2 linked regions of the Homo sapiens genome follow. The protein of the gene in region 1 interacts with the protein of each later gene in a pairwise test. Each region holds a gene or a part of one and is shown on either strand. Other genes may lie near its edges.

Region 1 (3,649 bases):
TCAACGCTGTATCGATGGGTCAATGTGAAGCCCAGATGGAGAGGCCCCAGGCCCTGGGGGCTGCCCCGGTCACAGCTGCAAGGGACAGGGGGCACGTTTGGGTTCCTGCCCCTCTCACTTCCCATCTCTTCCGTCCCCACTCCTGGGTTGTGCTGAAGTGAATCAGAACCCGAGATCCACGAGCAGCACTGGTTCTGGATCGGCCTGAACCGTCGGGATCCCAGAGGGGGTCAGAGTTGGCGCTGGAGCGACGGCGTAGGGGTGAGGGGGCCTGGGGTACTTGGGACTGCGAGGCCGGGAGCTTGGTGGGCGGGGCCTGTTTGGGGCGGGGCCTGGAGGTGGGCGGGTTTTCTTGAGGGCCGGGCCCCCAGTCGGAGCCGGCTTCAGGAAAGCAGGTCCGAGAGGGGTCACCCGGCCCCCGGTGAGAATTCGCAGCTCAGGCCAGGCCTCTTGTTCACCTGTTCCGGGCATGGGGGCGGCCTGCACCTTGCGCCTCACGTTCCTCTTCCCTCCACCCGCCTCCTCCAGTTCTCTTACCACAATTTCGACCGGAGCCGGCACGACGACGACGACATCCGAGGCTGTGCGGTGCTGGACCTGGCCTCCCTGCAGTGGGTGGCCATGCAGTGCGACACACAGCTGGACTGGATCTGCAAGATCCCCAGAGGTTGGCCGGAGTGGCGCTGGGGGACGCGGGATGGAGCGAAGGGTGGCGGGGCCAGGAATTCCAGGGAGGGTCTCCTTTCCTCACAACGTCTTTGTCCTTGTTCCCCTAGGTACGGACGTGCGGGAGCCCGACGACAGCCCTCAAGGTGAGCACCCCCCAGCCCATCCCGCTACCCATCGCGTGGGAGAGGGCGTCAACTCTGGGGTAAGTCCCGAGAGGCCTGAATGAAATGGAGGGGATGAGGAGTTCCGGTCGAGAGAAGGGGGACGGGGTTGGCTCGGACGGAGGCAGCCACAGCCCTGTTTGCTTCCGTGTGGGAGGCGAGGCAAGCCTGGGGCCTGGGGCCTGGCACGGTGCCTGCCTGGGTCCGGTGTGCCTGCAGGCTCGCCTGCTGCCGCCTGGCTCTGCCCCGGCCCTGCCGCGCCCGCCTCCGGGGCCTGGCGTGCAGCCTCTGCCTGGCCGCCGCTCCCACGCCCGCGCTGCTCCTGCAGGCCGACGGGAATGGCTGCGCTTCCAGGAGGCCGAGTACAAGTTCTTTGAGCACCACTCCACGTGGGCGCAGGCGCAGCGCATCTGCACGTGGTTCCAGGCCGAGCTGACCTCGGTGCACAGCCAGGCGGAGCTAGACTTCCTGAGCCACAACTTGCAGAAGGTGGGCATTGGATTGAGCAGGGGGCTGCAGGCTGGGGGAGGGCAGGCCCGGGATGAGGGCAGGGGGCTGCCTACCCACACCTGCCCGCCTGGCTTCTCCAGTTCTCCCGGGCCCAGGAGCAGCACTGGTGGATCGGCCTGCACACCTCTGAGAGCGATGGGCGCTTCAGGTAGGAACCCAGGCAGGCAGCAGATGTGGAAGGGGGCTGGCTGTCCACACACGGAGCACAGAGGCAGACTTGCATTTGAATCCAGCCCTGCCCCTTCCTTGCTGGCTGTGTGGCCTTGAGCAAGATACTTAACCTTTCTGGGCCTTGGTTTTCTCATCTGAAAATGGGAATATGAGGCCTGCCTGGTAAGATTTTTGTGAAGATTAGAAATAACATATGCGAAGTGCTTACGCAGCATCCAGCACATTAGTTACTAAATAATGGCAGCTCCTGTTACGTCTGGTGTCATTCATCATGACTAAGGCCCTCTCGGGGAAGTGGGCAGAACATATGATGATCCGGGGGCCTCTTTGTATTTGGTGCCTACTTACCATGTACTGGGGGGCTTGAGGCAGGAAGGACCAGGAGCACCTGGGACTCAGAATTTGAGCTTGTCTTTTTGCCCTTGGGCTTCCTGCCCTGGAGTCCTCAGGCTTCTTTTCTGGAGCAGCAAGTGTCCAGGGACAGCTGGGGCCTTATCTAGAGGCACCAGGTCCTTGGGTCTTTGACTGCCCTGAGCTCAGTAGCTCCACCCCTCAGCCTACAGCCACTAAACCCCAGAACCTGGGCCCTTCCCTGCCCCCATTCCTGCGGCCTTCATTGCTGCATCCGGTGGAGGCCCAGCTGGGGGCCGGTGCTGGAGTTACCTCTGCTCCATGCCATTGCAGATGGACAGATGGTTCCATTATAAACTTCATCTCCTGGGCACCAGGCAAACCTCGGCCTGTCGGCAAGGACAAGAAGTGCGTGTACATGACAGCCAGCCGAGGTGAGGGCAAGGTGGGGGCAGAGTGCGCAGTCAGCTGTGCAAAGGGTTAATGCTGGGCGAGCCTGGGCAGAAGTCATCAGTCTGTTCTCATTCTCTTTGTTCCCACAACCCAATAAAGGCTAGACTCAGCGAGGGGTGGACCTGTCTCCATGGTCCAGAAGACTTGAATTCGGAGCTGGACACAGGCCCTGAGCCTCTGCCCAGACTCCTCTCAGGGCATGAGGCTGAGTGTGCTGCCAGCCATGCCCTGCCCTGCTCTGCCCTGGGGGTGACTGCCCTCCCCTCCCCTTTCCGCAGAGGACTGGGGGGACCAGAGGTGCCTGACAGCCTTGCCCTACATCTGCAAGCGCAGCAACGTCACCAAAGAAACGCAGCCCCCAGACCTGCCAACTACAGCCCTGGGGGGCTGCCCCTCTGACTGGATCCAGTTCCTCAACAAGGTAGGAGGTGGCAATGGGGCACCCAAGGGAGTCAGGGGAGAGGACGTGAACAGGGAAAGGCTGAGCCTCAGGAGTCCTGGCCTTTTGGCAGCACCAAACTCATGGCCTCTTGCCTGTACCCACCAACTTCTCTTTCACCTGGCTCCAGTACCAGGGCCAGACTCCTTGGAAAATGACTCACTGTAGTAGCACCTTCCAATCCTCCGGGAAGCAAGGTTGTCCAAATAATTTGGTGAGTGTTCTAGATCAGTGATTGCCAAAGATTTTTTTTTTTTTTTTTTGAGAAGGAGTTTCACTCTTGTCACCCAGGCTGGAGTGCAGTGGCGCGATCTCGGCTCACTGCAACCTCTGCTTCCTGGGTTCAACCAATTCTCTTGCCTCAGCCTCCCGAGTAGCTGGGATTACAGGCACCTGCCACCACCCCTGGCTAATTTTTGTATTTTTAGTAGAGATGGGGTTTCACCATGTTGGCCAGGCTAGTCTCGAACCCCTGAACTCAGGTGATCACCTGCCTTGGCCTCCCAAAGTGCTGGGATTACAGATGTGAGCCACCGCGCCCGGCCTGATTGCCGGCCTGATTATCAAAGATTTTGATAATGAACTCCTATTAGTAAAACAAAATATTGAGCTTACATGACCAAACTATGTGTGTGTACATTTAACTTATATATGTATATGTGTGTGTAAATAAAACCTACTTCCATACTAATATGACTAATATTATATATAGTAAAATATGTATAAGAACAAAAGAGTATAAAACATTAGCTAAAGATTTTTAAATACTTTTAAGTTTAAAACATTTTTTTGGCTGCGCGTGGTGGGTCATGCCTGTAATCCCAGCCCTTTGGGAGGCTGAGGCGGGTGAATCACCTGAGATTAGGAGTTCGAGACCAGCCTGACCAACATGGAG
Region 2 (3,649 bases), about 54 Mb from region 1:
TTCCCCCTTTTTATTAGAAAGTTGATTGATTATGGCTGAACTAACCACCATTATCAACTGAGATGAGTAAGTTTTGAGGCTTGAAATAGAAATGGTTTGAAATGCAAATTTTTATGTGCAGCTACTGTTTTGACAACCATATCATTCCTCCTTCTTTTTTGTAGGCTTTAGAATCCAAATTAGCAGCTTGCAGGAATTTTGCAAAGGACCAAGCATCACGAAAATCCTATATTTCAGGGAATGTTAACTGTGGGGTGCTGAATGGCAATGGCACAAAGTTCTCTCGATCAGGGCATACATCTTTCTTCGACAAAGGGTAAGTCCTGAATGTTTTAAGTGATAATTTTTTGAGTAGTAAAGTGACAGGTTAGTAAGTGAGCATAATGAAGCCTTGAAAAGGTAAACTCAGCTTGACAAACCTTCCCGAAGCCTGTTATCATTCTAATCTTAGGTGACATGACGTCTGTTGTTGTCCTCTAGTCCCCATGGAGTCTGTTGCCCCAGGAACCCTGAATCTGAGGCTTCTGTCCTGGGAAGCAGACTCTTGAAAGGCAGCAGTGTGAGGCTCTGGTGAGTCAAAATGACTGCGATAAGGTCCCTGTTCTCCAGGTGCTTACAGGCTGGCAGACTTGGAAATATTTTTTTGGGGTAGAAGACAGCATCACAATTAAATATATGCAAACTCTACAACAGACATCCCCTGTGAGAATTTTAGAGAAATATAAAGCCCTGAAGTACTTAGGCACTGGATCAAATACAGTTTAGGAGATACAACTTTTGTATAAAGTTAAGGCTTTTTTGAAGATTGAAATAAAATTGTTTTAAGGTTGAAGCATCCTTAATGCAAAAAATTTCAGTTAGTATGGAAGTATATGAACTAAAAAGTCATGGTTTCCTGCCTTCACACTGTTTCTGCATTCCTTACAGTTATTCCAAGGCATGCCAAATCATATTTTTATGCATCTGCTCTAAGTTGTTTGTAACACAGTTACGGGATTATACTTTAAATATTGCTTTGCAGTGTGCCTATCATGACTTCTATTGCCATTATCTTTCCATGTCATGTATATTATTCTACCTCAATTTACTTATTTATTTTTAAATACTACATGGTAATACGTGGTTGTATGAGTATGCCTTAATATAGGTCACTATTAGGACCCGTGGCCTGGGATGCTCACGGTGTTGCCTAAGGTAGTTGTTATTGAAACAGCCAACAGGCACCCGTGATCCTTGGCTACTGTCTCTGCTTTGAGTCAAAGAGGTAATTCTTGCTTGTTTTTCTCTGAAAGCAGAGCAGGTACAACTCTAGAAACGCTCACAATCTCTGAAAGCAGCTGGGATTTTCTGCCGTCCTCAATAATTATGGCACATGTGTAAAGGAGCAGATTCGACACACGGTGCACTCTGAATAGGCTCTTATCCTTGCAGTGGAGTGTTTTGGTTGATCTCTGTCCCTGATTTTACCCTGGAGAATATACATTTCATTAAGGATTTTGTATTAAAAGCACATCCTAAAACATCACTATACAAATTAGAACTTTATTCTTTCTTAAAAAATTTGTTTAAATAATTTTTGTTTTCTTTTGAAGAGATGGGGGTCTCACTCTGTTGCCTAGGCTGATCTCAAACTCCTGGGCTCAAGTGATCCTCCTGCCTCAGCCTCCCAAAGTGCTGGGCTTGCCGCCGCGCCCAGCTGAAATCAGAACTTTATTCTAACCATTGGGTTTCCTCGGGTGGAGTAAACATAAAATTGATTTTCCTCAGGCTTAGGAGTTTCAGGCAGACTTGCGGCAGCCCTTGTTTTTATAGTGGAATGATAAATGGAATGACTGGATGGTTTTACATGAGCGTAGCCATTTCCCCTGAATGATATGGAGAACTTTTAGGGTAGTCTTCATAAATGTTGGAAGCAGTGCCTAATTATTTTTCCCTACAACTTATAATGATCCTCTACTAGAGTAGTTATTAGTTTCTCCTTGGAATCGTATTTCTTGATGGGCCGCAGGTGCCTTTCATGAGAGCAGGTGTGAATCATAAATGGATAGGTCGGACAGGTGCCTGTGCGTGTGGAAGCCCTGAAGAACAGTCACGAGGAGGGAAGGATAACACTGTCTGTTCAGGGTCGCTACTCCTGCCCGCCACTTGCCTCCCAAGACAGAGCACCAGGGCAGGGATTGCCAAGAGGTGAGCCTGTTCTGAGGGAGATGTGGGGACCTTAGGGTGAGCTGAAGCCAGGAACAGGCCTTGGGCACACTGACTGCACCTCTGCCCCTTGAGAGCATCCGAGATGTAAGTGTAGGCTTTACTTCCTGAGCTGAACCCGGAAATGTGCTGTGCTTCCCAATCGGAACAGTTGCAGATACTGAGTTTTGGTTTTAAATGGTAGACATTTTACATTGTGCCTTTTCTATTAAGAAATATGCTTTTGTGGGCTGGCTGTTGTGTGAGTGTTTAGCTTATATGATAAGTGGATTGTGTATGCGCACTGAAATATTAACCTACTGTTGCTGGAGTTGTCTTTCTAGTTGCTGTATTCCTGAGGATAACTCTTTTGTGGGTTTTGCTGTGTTTTCACTTTCTTGCCGCTTTGCTTCGATTCCGGCTTTTGGCCTGTCTGGCTTTTTACCTCTGGCTTTTCTTCTGCCAACCTGTTGACCAGATAAAAACCAAGATGTTGTGTAGCAGCCGCAAAAGGAAGGGCAGGATATTCCACTTCCCAGGTCCATTATACACTCTGGCAGGTTAAAAACACAAAAGCCTGTCTGTGTAGAAGTGGAGAAGTATGGCTTGTAGTTTCAGCATGAGAAAAGTGCCCCATTTGAAAAAGCCCTCCACTGCAGAACCTGCCTGCCCTCCCTCTCACTCCTGAGGAGTCTGTAGCACCGTGGTGATGGCTCACTAGTGCTGCCAGAAACCTGCGGCAGGATTGTTTGGGGGAGAGACATCATCAAAGTAGGTTTGTGTGTGTGTGCATGTGTGCGGGTGTACATGTGTTCACCTTCCCACCCGCTGAAACTTCAGATGCAGTGAAGCCTTCTCACATAAAACAATATACCTTAACTGGGCGTATTGCTCTGTGGGATTCAAAAGTATTTTGTAAATTCTGGTCACTTGAGGGCTTCTTGGAATCAGGTTTTTGTCTAGTCTGTGAGCACTTCTGCCAGTTCCTGAAACATGGGCTGCCGTGCCTGCTTCCCAGGTGCCGAGCTGTTTCCTTCAACCATGGTCACCCTTTGTCTCACCATCTGAAAGGACACACATTTCATGTGGAGTGTGGTCGCTTGGAGTCTCTCAAAAACACTCTTTTTTTTCCCATAACTTTATGTAGTTTCTTAGGTAACATGTGCTCTATTTTTGTAAGCCACTCTGAGTTCTTTTGGGCTGTGTGTAGGTGGGCATGGACTAATTTTAGGGCGTGATGTGGAAATAGTATTCGTATTACTGTTTAATATGTTCTCCTTTCTTTTATTAGGCAAGAAAAAGTCATATTTCCCACGTTGTTCATGGGTAACTGAATTTGTTTGCTGTGCTCTTTTTCATTCTTTCTTAATCCTGGTGTGTGGTGGAAGACACATTAACAATCTGGTTTTACTAACTGCATGGGGCTGACTCAGCTTTAACCAACTTACAGCCCATCAGTGAACTT

Evidence for each region.
Region 2: the proteins of MRC2 (region 1) and NDEL1 interact in a two-hybrid assay, tested with the Homo sapiens proteins (2 studies listed by BioGRID and IntAct).

What each region holds. Positions count from the first base shown.
Region 1 is NC_000017.11:62,679,642-62,683,290, forward strand, and holds part of MRC2 (C-type mannose receptor 2 precursor), read left to right. Parts: intron 1-158; coding exon 159-261; intron 262-528; coding exon 529-667; intron 668-776; coding exon 777-812; intron 813-1,158; coding exon 1,159-1,319; intron 1,320-1,420; coding exon 1,421-1,488; intron 1,489-2,195; coding exon 2,196-2,296; intron 2,297-2,593; coding exon 2,594-2,736; intron 2,737-3,649. UniProt on the Homo sapiens protein: May play a role as endocytotic lectin receptor displaying calcium-dependent lectin activity. Internalizes glycosylated ligands from the extracellular space for release in an endosomal compartment via clathrin-mediated endocytosis.
Region 2 is NC_000017.11:8,459,845-8,463,493, forward strand, and holds part of NDEL1 (nuclear distribution protein nudE-like 1), read left to right. Parts: intron 1-164; coding exon 165-316; intron 317-3,475; coding exon of another isoform or gene 3,476-3,510; intron 3,511-3,649. UniProt on the Homo sapiens protein: Required for organization of the cellular microtubule array and microtubule anchoring at the centrosome. May regulate microtubule organization at least in part by targeting the microtubule severing protein KATNA1 to the centrosome.